Linked DNA regions of Homo sapiens: region 1 is linked to region 2. Evidence: fine-mapped expression QTL. A gene starts in region 2. The other region holds a variant in brackets. All regions are shown on one strand. Distances are between the middles of the regions. Region 1 holds the start of LOC105372245 (a long non-coding RNA gene). Region 2 holds the start of MFSD12 (major facilitator superfamily domain containing 12).

What was found. PIP is the estimated chance that this variant, and not a neighbour inherited with it, causes the effect.
Region 1: its variant is fine-mapped to the expression of MFSD12 in lung (TOPMed, PIP 0.95).

The regions. Positions count from the first base shown.
Region 1 is chr19:3,487,147-3,500,451 of GRCh38, forward strand. It overlaps DOHH (deoxyhypusine hydroxylase), which reads right to left. Exons shown (of 5, transcript NM_001145165.2): 2 at 9,395-9,740; 3 at 6,882-6,958; 4 at 5,116-5,353; 5 at 3,678-4,665. The coding sequence starts at 9,668. The coding sequence ends at 4,346. LOC105372245 (a long non-coding RNA gene) reads left to right here and starts at 8,969. Exons shown (of 4, transcript XR_936262.3): 1 at 8,969-9,008; 2 at 9,805-9,897; 3 at 10,212-10,467; 4 at 12,789-13,305. LOC105372246 (a long non-coding RNA gene) reads left to right here. Exons shown (of 5, transcript XR_936264.2): 2 at 982-1,109; 3 at 2,946-3,264; 4 at 3,376-3,470; 5 at 4,129-4,215. RefSeq lists a silencer at 6,996-7,196. The variant C/T (reference allele first, on the strand shown) is at 10,097.
Region 2 is chr19:3,554,460-3,568,033 of GRCh38, forward strand. It overlaps MFSD12 (major facilitator superfamily domain containing 12), which reads right to left and starts at 3,127. Exons shown (of 10, transcript NM_174983.5): 1 at 2,647-3,127. The coding sequence starts at 2,944. RefSeq lists silencers at 2,553-2,722, 2,903-2,972, 3,013-3,562 and an enhancer at 3,672-3,966.

The sequences.
Region 1 (13,305 bases), 67 kb before region 2:
CTACCTGCCTCAGCCTCACAAAATGCCGGGATTACAGGTGTGAGCCACTGTGCCCAGCTTTTTCTTGTTGTTTTAAAAACATTGCAGCTGGTCTGTGTTGATGGGTAAAGAGAGGAAACCAAGGAGGCAGGAGAGAAAAGGGGGAAGGGCTGAAGTAATGGCTGTGAGTTGATGAGAAGGACGAGGAGTTGGTGAGGAAAAGAGGTGGCTCAGGCAGCCAATGTCACATTGGAAGGTGCCACCTTGGAAGTGGCTCCTTCGGCCCCAGTTGAGCCTTCAGATGAGGCAGCCCTGGCCGACAGCTTGATTGCAACTTCATGAAACACCCAAAGCCAGAAACATCCAGATACGCTTGCTGCTCCCAGACTCGTGACCCACAGGAAAGGTATCTGTCTTCTTTCCTCTGTCTCTGGGGGTTTTCTTGTCTTCTTTATTTAAGATGGAGTCTTGCTCTTGTCACCCAGGCTGGAGCGCAATGGCACACGATTTCGGCTCACTGCAACCTCTGCCTCTTGGGTTCAAGTGATTCTCCTGCCTCAGCCTCCTGAGTAGCTGGGATTACAGGCATGCACCACCACACCCAGCTAATTTTTGTATTTTCAGTAGAGATGGGGTTTCACCATGTTGTCCAGGCTGGTCTCGAACTCCTGACCTCAGGTGATCCACCTGCCTTGACTTCCCAAAGTGCTGGGATTACAGGTGTGAGCCACCGCATCCGGCCTTGTCTTTTTTTTTTTTTTTTTAATTAAAGAGATGGGGGTCTCACTATGGTGCCCAGGCTGGTCTTGAACTCCTGGGCATAAGCGATCCTGCCTTGGCCTCTAGAGTAGCTGGGACTATAGGCATGTGCCTCTGTGCTCAGGTCCACTTTTCTGTCTCTGTAAGGACACTGGTCATTGGATGTAGGGTCTACCCTAAATCCAGGATGATCTCATGCTGAGATCCTTAACAACACCTGCAAAGACTCTATTTCCAAATCAGGTCACATTCATGGGTACCAGGGGTTACCACCTGGACAAGCCTTTTCGGGGGACACGATTTGACCCAAGTCCAGCTGTTTGAAGCTGCTAAGTTTGGAGTAATCTGTTGCACAGCCACAAGGATCTTAGGTAAGTCTTGGCTAGCAGAACCAACAGTTCATCAGCCAGCGTTAGCAGGCAGGAGGGGAGGCAGCATGCACGGCACAGGGACAGGCAGGCGGGCACAGCTGTTGGTGGGGTGTGCGGAAGGTCTGCTTGATTTTTTCACTGAAGCCGAAAGCAAGGTCATCAGCTGAGTGAGGATGAGGGAGGTTGGAGGCCAACAAGAAAGTGACAGAACAGATCGCAAGAGAGAGAGCCCCACGGAACCATAGTAGAATGGATGTTGGCTGCTCAGGAGGCTGAGGTGGGAGGATCACTTGAGCCTGGGAGACAGAAGTTGCAGCGAGCTTAGATCGAGCCACTGCTCTCCAGCCTGGGCAATAGAGCAACACTCTGTCTCTAAAACATAAACAAGATGGCCAGGCACGTGGCTCATATCTATAATCCCAGCACTTTGGGAGGCTGAGGAGGGCAGATCATTTGAGGCCAGGAGTTCAAGACCAGCCAGGCCAACATGGTGAAACCCTGTCTCTACTAAAAATACAAAAATCAGCCAGGCATAGAGGCATGTGCCTGTAGTCCCAGCTACTCAGCAGGCTGAGGCACAAGAATTGCTTAAACCTGGGAGGCAGAGGTTGCAATGAGCTGAGATTGCACCACCGCACTCCAGCCTGGGCAACAGAGTGAGACCCTGTCTCAACACAGAACAAAACATACTGAGACCCCGTCTCTACAAAAAAATACAAATATTACTCAGGCACAGTGGGGCAAACCTGAGGTCCCAACTGCTTGGGAGGCCAAGATAGGAGGATCGCTTGAGCCCAGGAGGTTGAGGCTGCAGTAAGCTGCAGTGATCAGCCACTGCACTACAGCCTGGGAGACAGAGGGAGACCCTCTCCATTTAAAAAAAAAAAAAGTGAGCCAAGCGCAGTGGCTCACGTCTGTAATCTCAGCACTTTGGGAGGCCAAGGCGGGCTGATCACAAGGTCAAGAGTTCAAGACCAGCCTGGCCAACATGGTGAAACCCCATCTCTACTAAGAATACAAAAATTAGCTGGGCGTGCATGGTGGCACGTGCCTGTAATCCCAGCTACTTGGGAGGCTGAGGCAAGAGAATCACTTGAACCCGGGAGGCAGAGGTTGCAGTGAGCTGAGATCACGCCAATGCACTCCAGCCTGGGTGACAGAGCAAGACTCCATCTCGGGGGGAGGCAAAAAAAAGGCTGGGTGTGGTGGCTCATGCCTGTAATCTCAGCACTTTGGGAAGCCGAGGCGGGTGGATCACCTGAGGTCAGGAATTTGAGACCAGCCTGACCAACATGGTGAAAGCCTGTCTCTACTAAAAAATACAAACAGGCCAGGTACGGTGGCTCACACCTGTAAGCCCAGCACTTTGGGAGGCCGAGGCAGGAGATCGAGACCATCCACCATCCTGGCTAACACAGTGAAACCCCGTTTCTACTAAAAATACAAAAAATTAGCCGGGCGTGGCAGCGTGCGCCTGTAGTCCCAGCTACTCGGGAGGCTGAGGCAGGAGAATGGCGTGAACCCGGGAGGCGGAGCTTGCAGTGAGTGGAGATCGTGCCACTGCACTCCAGCCTGGGCAACAGAGCGAGACTCCATCTCGAAAAAAAAAAAAAAACAAAAAAAAAATTTAGCTGGGCATGATGGTGCATGCCTGTAATCCCAGTTACTTGTTAAGCTGAGGCAGGAGAAGTGCTTGAGCCTGGCAGGCAGAGGTTGCAGTGAGCCGAGATCACGCCATTGCACTCCAGCCTGGGTAATAAGAGTGAAATTCCATCTCAACAAAAATAATAAAATAAATTAAAATTAAAAACCTATAATCAAACATGTGACTTCCAGGCAGGTTTCTCAACCTCTGCACTCATTTGGGGCCGGATCATTCTCTGTTGTGGGGACCGAGTGCTGGAGGTTATCTTCCAGCATCCCTGGCCTCCCCCGACTACCTGACTAGATGCCAGCTGCACACCCCCACCCCCCACCCCATGACAAGCTAAACTGATGCCCCGGGGCAGGATCCAGCACTCCGGTGGAGAACATGGCTCAGTGGATAGTCGGTTCCCGTTGCGTTTTGCCTCCTGTCTTCTGGTTTTGGCCTCTCTGGCTGCAGACCAGGAGCTCTGCACCTGAGATTCTACCGCTATGCCTATTTTACAGAGAGGTAAGTGGGCTGTCCCCAGCCACACATGGAAGGGCTGCGGGAGCCGGCGGAGGAAGCCATGTCTGGGCTCTCAGCTGGACCACAGAACCCCTTCCACTGCACCCACAACAGGAGCTGGGGGAAGACGGGGGTCCGGGAAGGGCCAGGCTGGAGGGCTGTTTCCCCAGAGCCCACTTGGAGGGAGCTGGCTGGGCAGATCTGACCAGGTAACCGCACATAAAACAGGTGCAGGCCTGCCTGTCGCTGGTGGTGGCTCAGTGTCAGCAGCAGGACAGATCCTAGAGCCAATGGCTGCGGATACAACCGTCTCCCCGCCCAGACGCCACACACTCTCGGGGAACGTTCCCTGAAAGCCCCCACCCCTCCCTCCCTCCCACGCTCCCCTCACCCAACACACTCAGAGGAGTCAGTGCTTGGCAAAAATAATTTAATATTCCATCTGGGCAGCGCTCTGAGGTCTGCTTGTCCCTCCCTGGCCCCTGTGCCCTACCTGACCCACTCAGGGACCACCACCCTGTCCCTACCCAGGCCTCGGGGTGGGGGAGTCAGAGGCCCCCAGACCCTGTGTCCCATTCCTAGTGAAGCTGAAGCCACCATAACGTCAGCCTCTTCCCAGAGCCCCAGCTCTGCCCCTGGCTTCCCTCGCGATCCTCCCCTGGCTCCCCTCGCGATCCTCCCTTGGCTTCCCTCGCGATCCTCCCCTGGCTTCCCTCGCGATCCTCCCCTGGCTTCCCTCGCGATCCTCCCCTGGCTTCCCTCGCGATCCTCCCCTGGCTTCCCTCGCAATCCTCCCCTGTCCTGAGCCGGGCATCCCAGAGCCTCCCGCAGAGTCCCACCCCAAGCCTGGAAACTTCCACGCTACAGCCCTGCGCCAGGCCCCGAGGAGCAGTCAGGGGACTCAGGGAGTCACAGCACAACGGCAGCTCCTCGGTCCCAGACGGAGGAGGGGGACAGCAACCATGCGCCCAGCAAGACACAAGCGATGACACCGATTTACACACACCCGGTTTAGACGCCAAAGCTCTGCGGGGGAGGAGCGGCCCTCAAGAGTCCTCCGGGAGCTCCGGGTGAGGGTGGGGCCCTAGGAGGGGGCCCCGCGCAGCTGCTCCAGGCCGTCCGCGTACTGGAAGGCCCGCCCGGTCTCGTGCTCATACATGTCCAGAGCCACCTCGCAGCTCTCACGCACCACGCGCTCTGGGTCGTCCGCGTGAGCCTGCAGCGCGGCCAGGCAGGCGGGCCGGGCAATGGCGCCCAGGGCCTCCGCGCACTCGTGCCGCACCATGGGGTTCTCGGTGCATCGGGCCAGGGCGGCCGCCAGCTGGGGCACCGCCGCCTCGTGCTGCAGCTGTCCCAGGACGTAGCCGACCTCGTGGCGGAAGAGGGCGCTCCCACAGTGCAGACCTGCAGGGGAGAGGGACACTCGCTGGGGCCAGGAGGGGTGGGAAGGGGAGCTCTGTCTTTTCGAAGACATGGGGTCTTGCTATCTTGCCCAGGCAGGTCACAAAGTCCTGGCGATCTTCCCATCCCGGCCTCCCAAAGTGCTGGGACGACAGGCGTGAGCCACCACGCCCAACCTGGGGTGTTCTACCTTGAAGACACCCCTGCCCCCAGCCCCAGTGATTAGGGATGCCCGGGGGAACTGACCGCAGCTATGGGGGCGGGAAAAGCTGGGAGCTATGGGGACCAAGAGGGACGCTTGCACGGGTTCTTAAGAGGCCCCATGGGAAATGCTTGGGGCCAGGCCCGGGATGCCGTTCCCGGGGGCAGGCCGCGGCCCCACTGCACAGATGCCATCACTGAACCTCACAGCGAGGCACTGCCCAGGACCCCACCCCAGAAGCCCCTCCTCACCCTCGGCCAGCGCCAGGGCGGCCTCCTCGCCTCCCGCGTTGCGCAGGGCGAACATGGCGCGGTATCGCTCGAAGAGCGGCCGGGACTCATCCAGCAGCGCCTCCCGCAGGCGCCCCACGTCACGCTCCTCAGCCGGCGGGGCAGGGTCCACGGAGAGGTAGGGTCCCGCCGCCGGCTCCCCGCCGTGCTGCTGCAGCCACTCCAGCCTGCGCACGGCCAGCTGGCAGGTCTCGGCCACCTGCGGGGAGGGGGTATCAGGCAGCGGGTTGGCCCTGGGGGGTCGCAGGGGCCCTTCCCCACCCCCCGGGATGGCAGCTTAGCAGGGGAGAGAGACACTGGCAGGGTGACTAACCCATCATTCCAGGCAGGAAGTAAGCCAGCAGGGGTGGCTGACTTGTGAGTGACCGGGGGACTGGAGGGCTGGGGAGGGCCTCAGGGAGGAGGTGATGTGGAGGCAGAGACCTAAGCCAGCTTAGGGAGGGAATCAGGTGGAGACCCGGGGATGGGGAAGCAGCGGTGGAAAGGCCCTGAGGCAGGACCCTGCGGGAGGGGTGAGGGCCAAAGGAACATGTGCGGCCCCACCTGACCAGGTAAGGCCTGCGGGCCACTGTAAGGGCTTGGGATTTTGTCCTAAAGGTGATGAGATATCGTGAGAGCTTTAAGCATGGAACAGAACAGCAGAATTGAGTGTCACACGTACCCCCGGCTGCCCCGGAGGAGGAGAGACTGAGGGTCGGGGTGGGATGTGGACAAGAAGTGGCAGGGGAGAAAGGAACATGCATGTCCGTGGCGGCATAACTCATAACAGCTAAAAAGCAGAGACAATTCAAGCATCCAGCCACAGTGAGTGGACACAGCATGGGCCGTCCACACCACGGAACGTGACTCAGCCACAAAAAGGAATGACGGGCCGGCCGAAGCGGCTCATGCCCCTAATCCCAGCAGTTAGGGAGACCAAGGCAGGAGGATCGCTTGAGCCCAGGAGTTCAACACCAGCCTGGGCGACAGAGCGGGACTTCATCTCTATAAAGAAAAAACTAATAAAATAAAAATTTGTTTCATTTTTGGGCCAGGCGCGGTGGCTCACGCCTGTAATCCCAGCACTTTGGAGGCCAAGGCGGGTGGATCACGAGGTCAGGAGATCGAGACCATCCTGGCTAACATGGTGAAACCCCGTCTCTACTAAAAATACGAAAAGATTTGCTGAGCGTGGTGGCAGGCGCCTGTAGTCCCAGCTACTCTGGAGGCTGAGGCAGGAGAATAGCATGAACCTGGGAAGCAGAGCTTGCAGTGAGCCGAGATCGCGCCCACTGCACTCCAGCCTGGGCGACAGAGCGAGACACCGTCTCAAAAAAAAAAAAGAAGAAATGTTGGAAGGTAGCAGGAGATCTCTGAAGAGGTCTGGTGGGCCAGGACAAGGTATCAGAGGTAGAGGGCACTGGGTGGGTTCAGAGGGGTCTTGGCAGAGGGACTGGACGTGGGGGTTCAGAGAAAGGGGGTCAGGCCGGCTCAGGGGCTCAAGGCCCGGGATGGAAGCGGGTGAGCAAAGCTGGTTGTCGCCGTTTTGCCAAATGGGGCGCAGCAAGTGTCTGTCCAGATTGTCGCCCTCGCCTTCCTCATCCCTGGGGCATCCTTGGCCAAGTGGTCGCCCTGGCAACCAGAGATGGGGAGGGTCTGAGGCTGCTCCAGGTCAGGGCTGGGGCAGGGCTGGGCAGGGCTTCCCAGGGACCCGAGACTGGCAGGGAGACAAGCAGGGGCCTGGTTACCTCGATGACGGGGTCCGAGGAATACTGCTTCAGGATCTCCAGAACTTCCGGGTCCCCGATGGCCCCCAGGGCCTCCCCTGGGAAGAAGCAGCCGGAGAGCTCATGTTGGTGGGGTGGATGTGTGGAAAATGCCCGGCTACCTCTGGGACCGGAGGACACCCCTCCCAGGGCTCTGCCACTGTGGGGAAGCCCCGCCTCTGTCCACGGCTGATTGGAGCAGCAGTCGGTACAGGCTCCCCGCTGGACCAATCAGCATCCCCTCCCCAGAGCAAGGCACTGCCTGGAACCGCACCTGGCTGCCGCTCAGAGCAAAATGGACCCCATCCCGGCCCGTACCATGAGACAGGGAGACAAGTATATCCCTACAACTCGGGATCACAGCTGACAAGCAGCTCCAAGAACCCAGGAGGTCGGGGGTGCAGTGAGCTATGATCACACCACTGTACTCCAGCATGGGCGACAGAGTGAGACCCTGTCTCAAAAAAACAAACAAAAAAAATTCCCAAAACAGGCCGGGCCTGCCGGCTGGAGACTCCAGAATTTGGGGCCACTGGGGCTACACTTAGGTGGGTTCGGGTACAGGCGCAAGTGCAGGCGTCGCAAGCCCAGGTCGGAGCAAGGCTGGCGGCGGCTCCCCGTAGAGCCCTGGGTGCAGATGTTCCTTGAATTTTCTCAGAATCGAGCTCAAGGGCCCTGCCTGTGAGGCAGCTGAGCTGGTGGCTTTTGCCTTTCCTGAAGGTTGCGGTTTGCGTTTGTGCACCTGCCTGGCAGGCTCCCTCTGCCGGGAAAAGTCCCGTATGCGCCAACACAGGCTCTGTGTCAGGCACCTCCCACGCGCTAATTGCAAATGAGCTCACTGGTTACAGAAACACAGTCCCAGTGGCACAGACGCACCAACTACCTGCCTCACTGGTCTCCTTCGCTGTCTAGGTCCCTCGCTACAACAGTCCATTTTTTTTTTTTTTTTAGAGCTTCGCTCTTGTGACCCAGGCTAGAGTACAATGGCGCGATCTCCACTCACTGAAAACTCCGCCTCCTGGGTTCAAGTGATTCTCCTGCCTCAGCCTCCCAAAGTAGCTGGGATTACAGGCGCCGGCCACCACGCCCAGCTACTTTTTTTTGTATTTTTAGTTGAGACGGGGTTTCACCATGTTGGCCAGGCTAGTCTTGAACTCCTGACCTCAGGTGATCCACCCGCCTCAGCCTCCCAAAGTGCTGGGATTACAGGCGTGAGCCAATGCACCCGACCTGAACAGTCCATTTTTTTGAGACAGGGTCTCACTCTGTTGCCCAAGCTGGAGTGCAGTGGCATGATCATGGCTAACTGCAGCCTCAACCTCCCTGGCTCAAGTAATCCTCCTGCCTCAGCCTCCTGAGTAGTTGGGACCACACGCGTGAGCCACGATGCCCGGCTTGTATCTGTATTGTCACTGTTTTGTCTCTTACTACATGACAGAGCCTGGCATACAGTAGGTGCTCACTAAATGTGTGTCCAATGAGTGGAGTAAATCTAATATACATTAGGGATTGGGGATCTATGGCTTGTCGCTTGTTTTTATACGAGCAAAGAATGGTTTTTAAAACACTTTTAAGGGTTTAAGGCGGGGTGCGATGGCTCATGCCTGTAATCCCAGCACTTTGGGAGGCCGAGGCAGGTGGATCACTTGAGGCCAGGAGTTCAAGGCCAGCCTGGCCAACATGGCAAAACCCATCTCTACTAAAAATACAAAAATTACCCAGGCGTGGTGGCACACACCTGTAACGCTATCTACTTGGGAGGCTAAGGCAGGAGAATCACTTGAACCCGGGAGGCAGAGGTTGCAGTGAGCCAAGACGGCACCACAGTACCCCAGCCTGGGCGACAGAGTGAGACTCTGACTCAAAACAAACAAATAAATGGTTTAAAACAAAAAATCAAAGGGATAGTACTTCCTGATGGGTGGAATTTATATGAAATTCAAATCTCAGCATTTACAAATGAAGTTTGTTTTTTGTTTTTTCACAGACAGGATCTCACTCTGTTGCCCAGGCTGGAGTGCGGTGGCACGATCATGGCTCACTGCAACCTTGACTTCCCGGGCTCCAGCGATTCTCCCGCCTCAGCCTCCCAAGTGGCTGCGACTACAGGTGCATGCCACCATGCCTGGCTAATTTTTGTATTTTTTCTAGAGACAGGGTTTTGCCATGTTGCCCAGGATGGTCTTGAACTCCTGAGTTCAAACGATCCACCTTCCTGGGCCTCCCAAAGTGCTAAGATTACAGGCCTGAGCCACCGCCCCCTGCCCAGTTGAGGTTGTCTGGGCACACAGCCTTAGCCATTTGGTGACAGATGACCTGCGCTGGCTTTATTGAGTCGCTGTCTGGCTGCAGAGCTGCAGGTATTTACTATCTGGTGCTCTATGGGGCAGTTGACCACTCTGATATTTATCACCTGAGTGAGGAAGGGGACACGTGGGGTCATGAAGAAGTGAGGCAGGAGGGAGCAGGTGCCCGGGACACAGACAGGTGCTCACCTGCCTCATGGCGCACCATGGGCTCCTGACGGGTGTCTTGCAGCACGTCCACCAGCATGGGGATGGCGCGGGCATCCTGCATCTGGCCCAGGCAGTAGGCCAGCTCGTGCTTGAGCAGGGCGGAATCGTCATCGAAGGCCTGGCTGATCCATGCAATGGCGCCTGGGCCGCCGAGCCCACGCAGCGTGAACAGCGCCCGGAAGCGGGCCTGCAGGGGCTGCTTGGGGTCCACCAGCGTCTGCCCGATGGCATCCACCTCCTGCTCCGTCACCATCGTGCTGTCAATGGGTCCCGGCCTTCCACAACCCTGCTCAGGCTAAACCTGGGGACGCGGGGATGTAAGAACCTGTGGCAGAAAAATGAGAGCCCAGGTTAGAAGCCCCCTTCACCAGTGCGTTGTCTGTTCCTAGGACCTGGGTGGGGCAAATTCCTACCCACTGACCAACCTGAGCATCTACGCTGAAAGCTCAGCTCCAACCTCCCTACTAGCTGTGCAGCCTTCCGTAAGTTGCTTTCCCTCTCTGGGCCTCAGTCTCTGCACTGCCTCTCGCCTATAGGCCTATCAGAAATGACCTCCACTGTCTGCTCTCCACACAGCAGCCAGAGGGACAGCTGACCCCCAAAATGGCCCTAGCGATCCCCACCCAATATTCAAGGCTTTATATAGCGATCCCCACCCAATATTCAAGGCTTTATATAGTC[C/T]TCTCCCACTCTGAACAGGGCTGACCCATGTGAATGCCAAGAAGATGGAACAGAGCAAGACTTCCAAGGTTAGGGCATAAAAAGCACAACAGTCTCATCCTTGTTCTCTCTCTAGGGGAAGCCAGTGACCATGTTGTGAGGATGCTCAAGCAGTCTTTTGTAGGGGCCCACGTGGCAAAAAACTGAGCCCTCCCACCAACAGCCATGTGAGAGAAGTGGGCTGGCAGCAGCTCGTCCAGCCCCAAGCGAACCTTCAGATGATGCAGCCCCAGAGCGTCTCCACTGAGGCCTTACCAGAGGCCAGACCCAGAGCCAGCCAGCTAAGCCAGGCCCAGAGCAACTGTGTGCGACACTGTTTACTGTTGTTGAAGGTAACCAAGTATGTTTTTTTGTTTGTTTTTGAGACAGGATCTTGTTCTGTCGCCAGGCTGGAGTACGGCAGCATGATCACGGCTCACTGTAGCCTCGAACTCCCAGTCTCAAGTGATCCTCCTGCCTCAGACTTCCTAGTGGCTGTGTCTACAGGCACACACCAGCATGCCCAGCTAATTTTTTTTTTATTATTTGTAGAGATGGGGTCTCACTTCTATGTTGCCCAGGCTGGTCTCCAACTCCCAAGCTCAAGTGATCATCCTGCCTCAGCCTCCCAAAGCATTAGGATTACAGGCATCAGCCACTACCCCCAGCCATTATGGGGATTTTTGTTACACAGCTTAGATAACAGATTCAGAAGTACTTTCAATATGTAAACTGGACCATATCACTCCCTTGCTTAAAATCCTCCTATGCCTCCTCACTCAACTACTTGACAGTCCCAAAGGCCCTTCATGACCATCTCCCATCACCTCTTCCCTCTCTAGCTCCACTCCAGCCACACAGGCCTCCTCGCTGTTCCTCCAACACGCCAGGCCCAGTGCAGCCCTAGGGCCTTTGCATTTGCTGTGATCTCCATGAGGAACATTCTTCCCTAGATGTCCCCACGTAGCAGGCCAGGCCTCACTAACACAGGCCTCCATAACTGTTTCAGCACTGACTGAGTGGTTAAGTTAAACATTAAAAGCTAAAAGAGCCAGTGCCCTCATACAAAGGCTGGAATGTAACAAAAGCCCATGAAGAGTTTTGCCCAGGCCTTTCCTGGGCCTTAAGGCATGACAAGATAATGAAGGAATTTTTTTTTTTTTGAGACAGAGTTTCGCTCTTTTGCCCAGGCTGGAGTGTAGTGGCATTATCTCGGCTCACCACAACCTATGCTTCCAGGGTTCAAGTGATTCTCCTGCCTCAGCCTCCCGAGTATCTGGGATTATAGGCATGCACCACCATGCCCGGCTAATTTTGTATTTTTAGTAGAGACAGGGTTTCTCCATGTTGGTCAGGCTGGTCTCGAACTCCCAACCTCAGGTGATCCACCCGCCTCAGCCTCCCAAACTGCTGGAATTACAGGCTTGAGCCACCACACCCAGCCAATAACGAAGGAATTCTTAATGTGACCCGTTTAGGATGAAACAAGTTTTACTGGGTGTCTGAAGAACTCCCCAAACCTCCATGATTTAGCAGGAGACAAGATAAGGATGATCACCCCAGCACCTGGACCCACTGGAGATGAGATAAGGGTGATCACCCCAGCACCTGGACCCATTTAGATTAAGTAAATTTACTGAGGTTCCAAAGGAAAGTCTTCAGGATTCAGATCTTAGTTATAGATTAAAAGAAGTTAGTCACTTTAAGTCTTTAGATGGATGCTCAGTTACATGTAGATGGAGAGCTTAGAGGGTATATAAGCTCTGGAAAACTTTGTCATTTTGAGTTGGTCTGGCGATATTTTCCAGGCCTTCTCCCTGTAACCGGTTACAGAAATAAAAACTCTCTTCCTCCCCAGTTAATCTGCATCTCGTTATTGGACCATGAGAAATAGCAGCCCGACCCTCAGTTTGGTCCAGGAACACCCGTGCTCATCCTCTTGCTTTCCTGGGTCTCCAACATCACTTCCTCATGGAAGCCTTCCCTGATCACAATGGACAATGTTACTCTTCCATCTCTTTTCACTTATTCAGCTTTATTTTTCTCCACGGCGCCTAAGACTCCTAGATATCATATTGGAAAGTATTGGTTTAGTTGCTTGTGATTGGTCTTATCCCTCATTAGAATAGAACTCTGAAGGCTGGGACTGAGTCTATCTTGGTCACTGTTGTATTCCCAGCACTTAGTGCAATGACCTGCACGCAGTAGGGCCTCAATAAAAACAATAACCGGCTGGGCGCGGTGGCTCACGCCTGTAATCCCAGCGCTTTGGGAGGCCGAGGTGGACAGACCATCTGAGTTCAGGAGTTCGAGACCAGCTGACCAACATGGTGAAACCCCATCTCTACTAAAAATACAAAAATTAGCTGGGCGTGGTGGTGGGCGCCTGTAATCCCAGCTACTCGGGAGGCTGAGGTAGGAGAATCGCCTGAACTCGAGAGGCGGAGGTTGCAGTGAGCCGAGATCGTGCCATTGCATTCCAGACTGAGCTACAAAGCAAGACCCTGTCTCAAAATAAATAAATAAAATAAAAACGACAACCGTGACAATAGCAGCTGACACTTATGTAGCATTTGCTACGCGCCAGGCACTCCATGCTCTTTACATTCATTAATTCATTCGATCTACATCACTACCCTGTGAGGTAGTTACTAAGATTGTCCCCATTTTACAGGTGAGGAAACTGAGGCACAGTTTGGGACTGTGCTTGGGAACTTGCTTGGGAGCAGCGTGAAGAGTTAGGAATCCAGGAAGTCTGGCTCCAGAGTCGGGCTCTAAACCACCAACGCTTTGTTGAATGACTTAGGATAAAAGAACACAGCCAAGGGGAGAAGGGACCCCTCTCTTTCCAGATCGGCTGAGAACCTGGCGGATGCTTCATCTCAAGACAGGCTGGCTATGGCATGCTGGCAGCCCTCTCTGGTGAACAGTGGCGTCAGCAAGGCTGCCTGGGCTTGACGAGGGCAGTGTAGCCACCTAAGCACAGGTGACCATCAAAGGAGAGTGACACCTTTAAAGAGGGGTCATCAGAAACCAGAGGGCAGGCCTGTGCGAGCTGGCAGGGCACTGGGGACCATTGAGACCCAACCGTACGACATAGGAGCTTCAGGACGTGAGGTGGGCACTCTTTCATGTAAAAAATCCCAGAGGAAAGAGATCGCCGGGACTCGAGACCCCTTAACCCGCCCCAT
Region 2 (13,574 bases):
AAAAAAAGAAAGAAAGTTCCTGCCTCACAGGCTGCTGTGAGGATAGAGTTCATGTGTGGCACCAGCAAAAGCTCCGTCTATTCTGAACCACTTCCTGCTTCCGCAGCTTCAAAGTGAGGACTGTTCCTACCTTTTCCACAGCTGTTTCTGCTACTTGGAATGCGCCCCTCCACACACTGCTACCCATCCGTCAAAACCTCAAAGTTAATGTCCTTCCTTCTGAAGCCCATTTGTGCCATCTGCCCACTCACAGGAGTGTTTGTGTCTGATTCTGAGGGTCGTCTCGGGATTGTGGGGGAGCTCCCCAGGACTTGTTAAAGGGCAAAGTGAGTCCTTAGCCACCAGCCCCAGACTTGGGGGTGAAATACAGAAGTGGGTGCCATTGCCAGGGTAACCTTCACTCAAGTCACCTGCTCAGGCATCAAGAGCGGCTGCCTGGGCTTCTGCTCCCAACAGACCCTCCTGACCCTCCAGGCCCACCCAGGTGGCCCCCACCTCTCAGCTCCCAGGGCAGGTGCCCTCCCCGAGGCGGGGAAGAGGGGTGACGGTGGACGCCTTGGTGTCCGGTTGGACCACCTGGTTCCCTGAGGTCTGCTTTGGAAAAACATAAAGCCTTCGGTTGCTGTTTCTGTTTGTTTTCTTGTTTTGGTTTGTTGTTGTTGTTTTTTGTTTTTTTAGACAGACTCTCGCTGTGTCTGGAGTGCAGTGGCGCGATCTTGGCTGACTACAGCCTCTGCCTCCCGGGTTCAAACGATTCTCCCACCTCAGCCTCCCAAGTAGCTGGGATTACAGGCGTGCGCCACCACGCTCGGCTAATTTTTGTACTTTAGTAGAGACGGGGTTTTGCCATGTTGGCCAGGTTGGTCTCAAACTCCTGACCTCAGGTGAGGAGGCCTCCCAAAGTGCTGGGATGACAGGGGTGAGCCACCGTGCCCGGCCCGCCCAGAAATTATCTTACGCGACTGTCAAAGAGCTTATCCAACTATTATGATCAAAGAGGCATTTGGGGCCCTGGGCTCCGCTCAGCAACCAATCCCAACGTAACCACAAAGGAAGGGACAGCCGGTCCCCTCCCTGTCTGCCGCCGCCTCAGGTACCCCAGGAATAGCCTGGACATAGGAAACATGAAACTCCAGTCCCCAAGCTGTGCCTGCTGCGGAGCCTGCCACCCTCAGACCACTGGAGATCCACTGCCTCTTGCAAAAAATGTCATCACCCAGATCCTGGGTCCAACCACCCATCCCAGTCATTGTTCCCAAGGGTGAGGAGGCACCCGCCTGCCCCTCCTGCCACCTGGAATTCCAAGAACTGAGCAGGATTCCTGGCCCTGCCTGCTGAAATGCCACATGTGTCCCAAATGCCAGGACGCAGCCGGCACTTCTGTGAGGGCAAGAAGAGCAGGGAAGGAGGCCGGCTAATCTTCAGGCCCAGGGTCCGGGAGGGGAGAGGAGGGCCGCTGGGAGGCAGCCCTGCAGTCTTATCGATGGGCACTGGGGCAGGGTGACCCAGCCCATGACGCCAGCCTCCTGCCCTCCCAACAGCCCTCTCTAATCAGGGCAGCTCCCCCAGACCTAGGGGGTCCCTGACCCTGGCCAGACAGATAGAGGCAATGCAAGAACAGGGCAGAGACCCCTGACCCTCCAGTCCCACCCAGGCGGCTCCCAACTCTCAACTCCCGGAGCAGCACCCTCAAACTGCTGACGCACCAGGTTGCCCTGGCAGAACACACAGAGAGAGAGGAGGCTCTAGGGGGCCTGACTGTCCCTCAGCCATAGCTGTCCCAGTTGGTCACCCTAATAGACGAGCTCAGGCTAGACAGACTGACAAAGGAGGCGCTGAGCAGTCACCACCAACCCTCCAGAGGGTTCAGGGTGGCCCGGGGGCTCAGACAAACAAAGGCATTCCCACTAGAAAGTCATGTAGTCAGATGGTGAGGGCCCCGCAGGTCAGACAGCAGCTCTGAGGCAGACAGGGGAGGCTGGACCAAGGGACAGACAGAGGGGATACGGGGCAGTTAAACAGACAGATGGGGGAGGCTCATGGCTCAGGCAGATAGAGAAGCCCTGCACAGTTGGACAGATGGGGGAGGCACTGCACAGTCAGACAGATGGGGGAGGCACAGCACAGTCAGACGGGGGAGGCTCAGGCCATGGGGCAGAAAGACGGGGGATGCTGGATGGTGGGACAGGCAGGGGAGGCTCAGGAGTGACACCACAGAGGGGCCACTGGGTAGTCAGACAGACGGGGGAGGCTCAGGCCACGGAACAGCCAGAGGGGTGAAAACTCAGCTCATGGGGCAGACAAACAGGGGAGACTTAGGTCCCAGGCAGGCAGAGAGAGGGGGCTGGGTGGTGGGACTGATGGAGGAAGCTCAGGCCATGGGCACAGACAGACAGACAGGGGAGGTTCGGGCCAGGGGACAGACAGAGGGGTGAAAACTCAGCTCATAGGGCAGACAGATACATAGGGGAGGTTAAGGCCGTGGACAGACAGTGCAGGGAAGCTCGGGCCACGGGACAGACAGACCGAGGGGAGACTCCGATCCTGAGGCAGGCAGACGGCGGGTGGTGAGTCAGAGGGAGGAGGCGCCCGGGTCGCGGAGTCTCGGAGGGGCTGCCCGACAGGTGGCGGGGCCGGGACGCTTACCGACCAGGTGCCAGGCCTTGCGCGGGCCGTAGCGGGCGCAGCAGCTGGCGGCGCGGTCGGCCTCGTAGCCCACGAGCGGTGTGCACAGCCCGTCGGCCACCTGGCCCAGCAGCAGCAGCAGCCCCGCGCCGCGGGAGCTGTAGGCGCGCACCGAGTGCAGGTAGAGCAGCAGGTAGGTGAACCACATGGACGCGCACAGGTCGTTGAGGAAGTGGCCCACGGCGTAGCTCAGCCGCGCCACCAGGGACAGCGGCCGCGGGGACGGCGCCGCTCCGGCCGCTGGGGGTCCCGGGCCCATCGCGGCGCCGGGCCCGCGCCCCCCACCCCCGGGCTCCGCGGAGGGTACCCTGGCCAGGCCTTCTTGGGTGCCGTGGGGGCAGGCGCCGGGGACCCCCACCACGCGCCGGGCACCCCGCGTCCCGCTCTCTTACGGCCGCGCCCTCACCCACGTCCGCCGCGTCCGCCCCACGCTCGACTCTGCAGCCGCCGGGCCCCAGAGCCGGGCGACTGCGCCGGGCGGGGCAGGGCGGGGAGGTTCCGGTGCCTGAGCCAATCGGAGCCGCGCCCCGGGGAACCGCAGCCAATCGCCAAGGAGAGAGGAGAGGGGCGTGGCCGCAGGGCTCGTTCCGCCTCTACGACGGGCGCCCACGCGGTCCTAGCGCCCGCCGGGTATGAGGGCGAACCCCGAGCGCGCCGCAGGAGTGGCCGGCACCCCCATAGACTGGGGAAGGAAATGGACCAGAGGGCACCGCCGGCTCCCACCCAGACCCGGCCTCCAGGCCCGCACCACCCCAGTCCACCCGGAGCTGGACAGCCCACTGCGGGCCGGGGTGGAGCGAGTGGGACGGGCTCTGGATTTGGGGTTGGGGGGAGGTCTGAGCCCGAGCTGGCCTCGGGGTCCGCTGACTCCCCGGCCTAGAGAGACGCGATCGGGCGCGGAGAGGACGCAACAACACTAATTAATTGGTTACTAACGGTAATGATGGGGGTAATCAACATAATAGTACCAGCTGGCCTTTAACGAGCGTTGCCTGCAAAGAGCCCCACGTGGTGACGCAAATTTCACTCTCATTTTACAGGCGAGGAACAGAGTTGCCCGAGGCTCGCAGTGAGTCAGGCGTCTGTGACTCCCAGGCCTGTGCGCGCGACCCTCCCCGTCCAACCAACGTCCTCCCACAAACGGGTCACCGGACTGAGGGTTTCAAGTTCCTCCAGGGGGTGTGTGCGGTTCCCCCTAACTCAGGCCCTACTCCTTCCAGCAGCATTTTCTCTTCTTTCCTCTTTTTATTTATTTCAGAAACAGGGTCTTGAGACGGGCGCGGTGACTCACGCCTGTAATCCCAGCACTTTGGGAGGCCGAGGCGGGCGGATCACCTGAGGTCAGGAGTTTGAGACCAGCCTGGCCAACAAGGTGAAACCCGTCTCTATTAAAAATACAAAAATTAGCCGAGCGTGGTGACAGGTGCCTGTAATCCCAGCTACTTTGGAGGCTGAGGCAGGAGAATCGCTTGACCCAGGAGGCAGAGGTTGCAGTGAGCCAAGACCGCGCCATTGCACTCCAGCCTGGATAACAAGAGTGAAACGCCGCCTCAAAAAAGAAAGAAAGAAAGAAAGAAACGGTCTTGCTCTGTGGCCCAGGCTGCAGTGCATTGGTGCAATCATGGCTCACTACAGCCTCAATCTTCAGGGCTCAAGTAATCCTCCTGTCTCAGCCTCCCAGGTAGCTGGGACTACAGGCACGCATCACCACATGTGGCTAACTTTTGTATTTTTAATTTTGGAGAGACAGGGTCTCACTATGATGCTTAGGTTGACCTCAAACTCCTGGTCTCAAGCAAGCCTCCCACCCTGGCCTCCAGAAGCTCTGGGATTACAAACATGAGCCTCTGCATCGGGCGGGTCTCCAGCAGTTTTCTTTCTTTCTTTCTCTCTCTCTCTCTCTTTTTGAGATGGAGTCTCCGTCTGTCACCCAGGCTGGAGTGCTGTGTTGCAATCTCAGCTCACTGCAGCCTCTGCCTCCCGAGTTCCAGCGATTCTCCTGCCTCAGCCTCCCGAGTAGCTGGGACTACGAGCACCCACCACCACGCCCAGCTAATTTTTGTATTTTTAGTAGAGACGGGGTTTCCCCATATTGGCCAGGCTGGTCTCAAACTCCTGAACTGAAGTGACCCACCCGCCTTGGCCTCCCAAAGTGTTGGGATTACAGTCACGAGCCACCGCGCCCGGCCTACAGCAGTATATTTGGCCTTGCAGTCTGCAGTGAGGTATGATTGCACCACTGCACTCCAACCTGGGCAACAGCAAGACCCCAGCTCTAAAACAAAACAAAACAAAACAAAAGGTCCTTGCAGTATGGAAGGAGAATCGTTGGATCCAGACTTGGTTCCACTGATTCTCTGCTGCTCCACTTGGGACAAGTCTTTTTTTTTTTGAGACGGAGTCTGGCTCTGTCGCCCAGGCTGGAGTGCGGTGGCACGATCTCAGAACACTGCAACCTCCGCCTCCTGGGTTCAAGAGATTCTCCTTCCTCAGCCTGCTGAGTAGCTGGGATTACAGGTGCCCGCCAACACGCCCGGCTAATTTTTGTAATTTTATTTTTATTTTATTTTTTTTTTTTTTTGAGACGGAGTCTGGCTCTCTCGCCCAGGCTGGAGTGCCCTGGCGCGATCTCAACTCACTGCAAGCTCCACCTCCCGGGTTCACGCCATTCTCCTGCCTCAGCCTCCGGAGCAGTTGGGACTACAGGCGCCCGCCATCGTGCCCGGCTAATTTTTTGTATTCTTAGTAGAGACGGGGGTTTCACCGTGTGAGCCAGGATGGTCTCGATCTCCTGACCTTGTGATCTGCCCGCCTCGGCCTCCCAAAGTGCCGGGATTACAGGCGTGAGCCACTGCGCCCAGCCTGGGACAAGTCTTTTAACCTCTTGGAGCTTGGGTCTCCCCTGATCTAGAACGGGTACAGGAGTTATATAATTGGCCTGCCATGGTGGCTCATGCCTGTAATCCCAGCACTTTGGGAGGCCGAGGTGAGAGGATTGTTTGATCCCAGGAGTCCAAGACCAGCCTGGGCAATGTGCTGAAACCCTATCTCTATAAAAAATTTTAAAAATTAGGCCAGGTGCGGTGGCTCAAGCCTGTAATCCCAACATTTTAGGAGGCCAAGGTGGGCAGATCACTTGAGCTCAGGAGTTCGAGACCAGCCTGCCCAACATGGTGAAAACCCATCTCTACTAAAAATACAAAAATAGCTGGGCGTGGTGGCTGTGCCTGTAATCCCAGCTACTTGGGAGGCTGAGGCAGGAGAATCTCTTGAACCTGGGAGGGCTGAGGTTGCAGTGAGCTGAGATCGCACCACTGCACTCCAGCCTGGGCGACAGAGCGAAGATCCGTCTCAAAAACCAGAACAAAACAAAACCCAAGGCTCAAACAGCCAAGGGGTCCACGGCCCCGGCTGCCCACGGTGATGCAGGTCACACACTGTTTTATGAAAACTAGACTGAAAATGGGCGGGAGGGGTAAAAGAGGTCAAGACACAGAACCTAGAAAGGAAGGAGGAGAGATAAGGGGCAGACGACTCGGGGAGATAAAGGGTTGAGGAGAGATAAGAACCTCAATTCCTTCCTCTCTGTTTGGCACGTTCCCACTTAGAGTCCTCCTGGCACGTTCCCCTTTAGAGTCCTCTGAGGGAAATGAAAGATGACTTTTTGAAATATTAGCCTAGGGACCAGGGATCCTGGCTCCCGCCTGTAATCCCAGCACTTTGGGAGGCCAAGGTGAAGGGGTCACTTGAGGTCAGCAGTTCGAGACCAGCCTGGCCAACATGGTGAGACCCCCGTCTCTACTAAAAATACAAAAATTGGGCCAGGCGCGGTGGCTCACGCCTGTAATCCCAGCGCTTTGGGAGGCCAAGGCGGGTGGATCACGAGGTCAGGAGTTCGAAACCAGCCTGGCCACGATGGTGAAACCCTGTCTCTACTAAAAATACAAAAATTAGCTGGGCGTGGTGGCGGGCGCAGATAATCCCAGCTACTCGGGAGGCTGAGGCAGGAGAACGGCTTGAATCCGGGAGGTGGAGGTTGCAGTGAGCTGAGATCGTGCCGCTGCACTCTAGCCTGGGGGACAGACCAAGACCCCATCTCAAAAAAAAAAAAAAATTACAGTAATTAGCCAGGCGTGGTGGTGGGTGCCTGTAACCCAGCTACTCCGGAGGCTGAGGCAGGAGAATCGCTTGAACCCAGAAAGTGGAGGTTGCAGTGAGCCAAGATCGCGCCACTGCACTCCAGCCTGGGCGACGGAGGAAGACCCTGTCTCAACAACAACAACAAAATTAGCCAGGTGTGGTGGTGCACACCTGGAGTCCTGGCTACTCCGGAGGTTGCTGTGGGAGGATCACTGAAGCCCAGGAAACGAAGGCTGCAGTGAGCTATGATCGCACCACTGTGCTCCAGCCTGGGTGACACAGTGAGACTCAGTCTCAAAACAAAAACAAAAAAACTAATGTTTTTCCCATTCCTCATCTCCTTTCATCCCACAAGATCCCTAGGAGGTCTTACACCACTTCATGCTCTATTATTTTATTTTATTATTAATTTTTATTTTTAGAGACAGGGTCTTGCTCTGTCACCTAGGCTGGAGTGCAGTGGTGTGACCACAGCTCACTGTAGCCTTGGCCTCCCGGGCTGAAGAGATCCTCCTGCCTCAGCCTCTTGAGTAGCTGGGACTACAGGTGCCTGCCACCACACCTGGCTAATTTTTTCAGAGATGGAAGTCTTGCTATGTTGCCCTGACTGGTCCCAAAGAGATGGGATTACAGACGTGAGGCACAGTGTGCAGCCTTCATGACCCCCTCCACTGCCTTTTCTTGTTTTTTTTGAGATGGAGTCTCACTTTGTCGCCAGGCTGGCGTGCAATGGTACGATCTCGGCTCACTGCAACCTCCACCTCCCGGGTTCAAGCGATTCTCCTGCCTCAGCCTCCCGAGTAGCTGGGATTACAGGCGCCCGCCACCACGCCCAGCTTATTTTTGTATTTGTAGTAGAGACGGGATTTCACCATCTTGGCCAGGCTGGTCTCAAACTCCTGACTTCAGGTGACCCGCCCGCCTCGGCCTCCCAAAGTGCTGGGATTACAGGTGCGAGCCACTGCGCCCAGCCCTTCATGCCTCTTTTACAGATAAGGAAACTGAGTTTCACAAAGACGGGCATGGGCATGGGACTGTGGCGGGCATGGGACTAACAAGAGGCAGATGTGGGATTTGAACTCAGCTCCACGTGACCTCTTTATGTGCTGGCTGCGGAATGCCACCTGAGTGTGGAGGAACAGGTGCCTCACTGTCCACTGCTTTTTCAGCCTCCTTTGTAGGTCGAGAATCAGGCACAATCCCGCCTCCCTTTGGAGAAGATCCAGCGGAGGAGGCAGGGTGTGGTTAAAGCGCCAACACATCTCTGCATTCTTGTCCTTTTGCTGTTGTGGTGGTTGTTGTTTGAGACTGAGTCTTGCTCTGTCGCCCAGGCTGGGGTGGAGTAGCACGATCTCGGCTCACCGCAACCTCCACCTCCCGGGTTCAAGCGATTCTCCTGCCTCAGCCTCCCAAGTAACTGGGCTTACAGGCACCTGCCACCACGCTCGGCTAATTTTTTGTATTTTTTAGTAGAGACGGGGTTTCGCCATGTTGCTGTTTCGCCATGTTGTGGGTCGGTTCTCGAAATTCCTGACCTCCCAAAGTGCTGAGATCACAGGCATGAATCACCATACCCAACGTAGTTTTTTTGTTTTTGTTTTTGAAGACAGAGTCTTGCTTTGTCACCTAGGCTGGAGTGCAATGGCGCAGTCTCCGCTCACTGCAACCTCTGCCTCCTGGGTTCAAGCAGTTCTGTATCAGCCTCCCGAGTAGCTGGGACTACAGGCGAGCGCCACCACCCCCAGATAATTTTTGTATATTTAGTAGAGATGGTTTTCACCATGTTGGCCAGGCTGCTTTCGAACTCCTGACCTCAAGTGATCCGCCTGCCACAGCCTCCCAAAGTGCTGGGATTACAGGCGTGAGCCACCGCGCCTGGCCACCCAAAGTATTTTTGTTTGTTTGTTTGTGACGGAGTCTCGCCTGTCGCCCAGGCTGGAGTGCAGTGGCGCCATCTCCACTCACTGCAAGCTCCACCTCCCAGGTTCACGCCATTCTCCTGCCTCAGCCTCCTGAGTAGCTGGGACTACGGGCGCCCACGACCACGCCCGGCTAATTTTTTGTATTTTTAGTAGAGATGGGGTTTCACTGTGTTAGCCAGGAGGGTCTCGATCTCCTGACCTCATGATCCCCCTGCCTCGGCCTCCCAAAGTGCTGGGATTACAGGTGTGAGGCACTGCGCCTGGCCACCCAAAGTATTTTTAAATTTTTTGTAGAGATGAGGCCTCATCATTTTGCCTAGGCTGGTCCCGACCACCTGGCTTCAAGTGGTCCTCCCGGCTCAGCCTCCCAGAGTGTTGGGATTATAGGCATGAGCCTCGGCACCTGGCCTCTGTTTTTGTCCCTTTGAAGCCAGCTAATATTTCCTAGCCCTGACTTTGTGGGGTGAGCAGGAACTAGGTCTGACCTCTTGCTGAGGAGCCCCAAAGATTCTGAAGCCCCTGCTTTTGAGGGGAGACAGGGATGACCCCTCCCAGTTCCCCTCATCAGGGACAGGACTGGAGGAGTCAGACCAAGAAGGGCGGTTACAAGGTAGGTGAGGAGTTGGGACATTACCCTGAGGTCACTAGGGAGCCATGGTAGGGGTTAGAGGGAGGGTGGGACTGAGTCAGATTAAAAAGTCCAGTGGGAGATGAGGAAGGGCTTCTTCCAAATGAAGGCCTCAGCTGCGTGCGTGGGGAAGCCACAGGAGAGGACATGTGCCCCAACAAGAGTGGGGGTTGGACGTGAGGGTAAAGATCAGAGAAGGCCCTGTCTAGAGATGTCAGGAAGGCATGATGAAAGCTCAGGCCCTCGGGGTAGGACAGAGGAGTCAGGAGAGATCCTCACAGTCTGATGTCCCCAGCCCATCACCAGCAGCCCCCTGACGCCAAGCCTGCGTTCCCCCTCCCCTGGCCGGACATCGGATGTCCTGATGGCCGCAGTCCAGCCTCGGGGTGGGGTGGGGAATGTCAAGTACTAGAGGCTTCCTTGATCTTCTGTGACCCAGGCCTGGGGTGACAGAGGTGGGGGGGTGGGCAGTGAGGGTTCCTGAGGCTGCACTGAAACTTCCTTATATCTGAGGGTGGCCACGGTGGAGGCGGGGGAGCAGGGGAGCAAAGCCAGGATCAAATCTGGGCAGTCCCTGACAAGCCACCAAGCTTCAGTTGCCCTCTCTGTAAAATGGGGGTGAGGTGAGAGTAACCGAACCAAACAGAATACCAGGAGGCTTCAACCACACAACTTGGCCGGGCGCGGTGGCTCACACCTGTAATCCCAGCACTTAGGGAGGCCGAGGCAGGTGGGTCACCTGAGATGAGGAGTCTGAGACCATCCTCGCCAATATGGTGAAACCTCATCTCTACTAAAAATACAAAAAATTATCTAGGCCTGGTGGTGCATGCCTGTAATCCCAGCTACTCGGGAGGCTGAGGCAGGAGAATCACTTGAGCCCGGGAGGCAGAGGTTGCAGTGAGCCGAGGTCTGGCCATTGCACTCCAGCCTCGGCGACAGAGTGAGACTCCATCTCAAAAAAAACATTAGCTGGGCATGGTGGTGGCCACCTATAATCCCAGCTACTCGGGAGGCTGAGGCAGGAGAATTGCTTGAACCTGGGAGGCAGAGGTTGTGGTGACCTGAGATCGCGCCATTGCACTCCAGCCTGGGCGACAGAGTGAGACCCAGTCTCAAAAAAAAAAAAAAAAAAAGGATGGGGAGGGAGGGAAGGAAGGACGAACTCTTTTTTTTTTTTTTTTTTTTTTTGAGACGGAGTCTTGCTCTATTGCCCAGGATGGAATGCAGTGGCACGATCTCAGCTCACCACAACCTCCTCCTCCCAGGTTCAAGCGATTCTCCTGTCTCAGCCTCCTGAGTAGCTGGGATTACAGGTGCCTGCCACCACGCCTGGCTAAGTTTTTGTATTTTTAGTAGAGACGGGGGTTTCTCCACGTTGGTCAGGCTGCTCTCTAACTCCTGACCTCATGATCTGCCCGCCTCGGGCTCCCAAAGTGCTGGGATGACAGGCGTGAGTCACTGCGCCCGGCCTCTTCAGTCAGTCTTTGCGTGACTCAGTCTTTGCCAGGACCCTCCTGGCCTCAGGTCCTGTTCAGTATCTGGTCTACCATTGCCAGAAGGAGCGCATTCTGTGAGTCTTGTGATTTACGTTTTAACGTTGATGCTGGTCAGTCCTTGCGCTGAGAGCAAAACGGGGAGGAGCTGTAACGAAGCGCGGTGACCTCCTGGCACGGCAGGGCCTGGAACTCGGAGCTTTTTGTTGTTGTGTTGTGTTTTGAGACGGAGAGTCGCTCTGTCGCCCAGGCAGGAGTGCACCGGTGCGATCTCAGCTCACTGCAACCTCCGCCTCCTGGGTTCAAGCAGTTCTCCTGCCTCAGCCTCCCGAGTAGCTGGGAGTATAGGCGTGTGCCACCACATCCGGCTAAGTTTTTTGTCTTTTTAGTGGAGATGGGGTTTCGCCATGTTGGCCAGGCTGGTCTCGAACCCCTGACCTCAGGTGATCCGCCCGCCTCGGCCTCCCGAAGTGCTGGGATTCCAGGCGTAAGCCACTGTGCCTGACCAACCTCGGTACTCCTGACGTTTGGGACATCATTTTTTGTGGTGGGGGCCGTGTAGGATCTCTGGCCTCAACCGTGTAGATGCCAGTAGCACCCCCCTAGTCCGACAATGAAAAATCTCTCTAGACATTACTAGGTATTTCCTGGCGTGACAGAGTTGGCCCCGGATGAGAACCACTGAGCTAGAGCGTTTTCTGTAACAGGTGTTTGATTCTCCCTGGACAATCCCAGCCAGCAACGTCATAAAGGTAGACAAAGCAATTATCCCACTTAACAGATGGAGAAACTGAGGCACAGAAGTTGAGTAAATTGCCCAAGTCCCACAGTTGAGGCTCAGATTGCTTCCCTGAGTTCCTGAGGGCCCAGCAGCAGTGGGGTGCCCCTCCTCAGAGGCCTGAGATCCCTGTCCCACCAGCCCTGTGTTCTGCCAGCCCCGGGGCCAGGGGATGCTAGGGGCAGTAGCTCTCTTTCCGCTTCCCTGTCGCCTTCTCAGCTCTCCAGCATCTGTTTAAGCAATGCCTGTATGAAGTTGCCTCTATAAAAAGCCCCAGGAGGCTTGAGATTGTCCGTGGCCTGGGAGAACCAACCACACCCTGACTCTCCCTGGGTGGTGGAGAAAAGTCCACACATCCATGTTGATTAATATCTATTAAAAATTTAAGGTCAGGCGCGGTGGCTCATGCCTGTAATCCCAGCACTTTGGGAGGCCGAGGCGGGCGGATCGCGAGGTCAGGAGATTGAGACCATCCTGGCTAACACAGTGAAACCCCGTCTCTACTAAAAATACAAAAACTTAGCCGGGTGTGGTGGCGGGCGCCTGTAGTCCCAGCTACCCGGGAGGCTGAGGCAGGAGAATGGCATGAACCCGGGAGACGGAGCTTGCAGTGAGCAGAGATGGCGCCACTGCACTCCAGCCTGGGCGACAGAGAGAGACTCCATCTCAAAAAAAAAAAAAAAAAATTAATGGGGGCATGTAATCCCAGTACTGTGGTACTGTGGTACTGTGGGAGGCTGAGGCAGGAGGATCACGAGGCCAGGAGTTTGAGACCAGCCTGGCCAACATGGCAAAACCTCATCTCCACTAAAAGTACAAAAATTAGTCTCGCATGGCGATGTGTGCCTGTAACCCTGGCTACTCTGAAGGCTGAGGCACGTGAATCACTTGAACACGGGAGGTGGAGGTTGCAGGGAGGTGGAGGTTGCAGGGAGCTGAGACTGAGCCACTGCACTCTAGCCTGGGAGCTGGGCAACAAAGCAAGACCCCATCTGTACGAAAATTAAAATAATCAGCCAGATGTGGTGGTGCATACCTGTGGTCCCAACTGCTCGAGAGGCTGAAGCAGGAGAATCACTTGAGCCCAGGAGTTCGAGGTTGCAGTGAGCTGAGATCCGATGACTACACTCCAGCCTGGGTGACACAGCGAGACACCATGTCTCAAAAAATAATAATAGTAAAAAATACCCTTTATCTGAGCGATATTATTGAGTAAACAGAACTGGTTGCAGTTGAAGCTTACAGCATGAAGGCACTGGTATAATACACAGCAGAATAGGACCTCACATTTGTTTGCTTACTTTTATTATTATTTTTTTTTGTAGAGACAGGGTCTCACTATGTTGTCCAGGCTGGCCTCAAATTCCTGGGTTCAAGCAATCCTCCTGCCTCAGCCTCCCATAGTGCTGGGATTACAGGTGTGAGCTACTGCACCTGGCCAGGACCTCACTTTATTTATTTATTTATTTTTTTGAGACAAAGTCTCGCCATGTCGCCCAGGCTGGAGTGTAGTGGCTCGATCTTGACTCACTGAAACCTCTGCCTCCCAGGTTCAAGCAATTCTTGTGCCGCAGCTTCCTGAGTAGCTGGAGCTACAGGTGTGCACCACCATGCGTGGCTACTTTTTGTATTTTTAGTACAGACAGGGTTTTGCCATGTTGGCCAGGCTGTTCTTGAAATCCTGACCTCAGGTGATCGGCCCACTTTGGCTTCTCAAAGTGCTGAGATTACAGGCGGGAGCCACCACGCCCAGCCTATATTTTTATTTATTTATTTACTATTTTTTGAGAGGGAGTCTCGCTCTGTCACCCAGGCTGGAGTGCAGTGGCACGATCTCAGCTCACTGCAACCTCCGCCTCTAGGTTCAAGTGATTCTCCTGCCTCAGCCTTCTGAGTAGCTGGGACTACAGGCGTGCACCCCCATG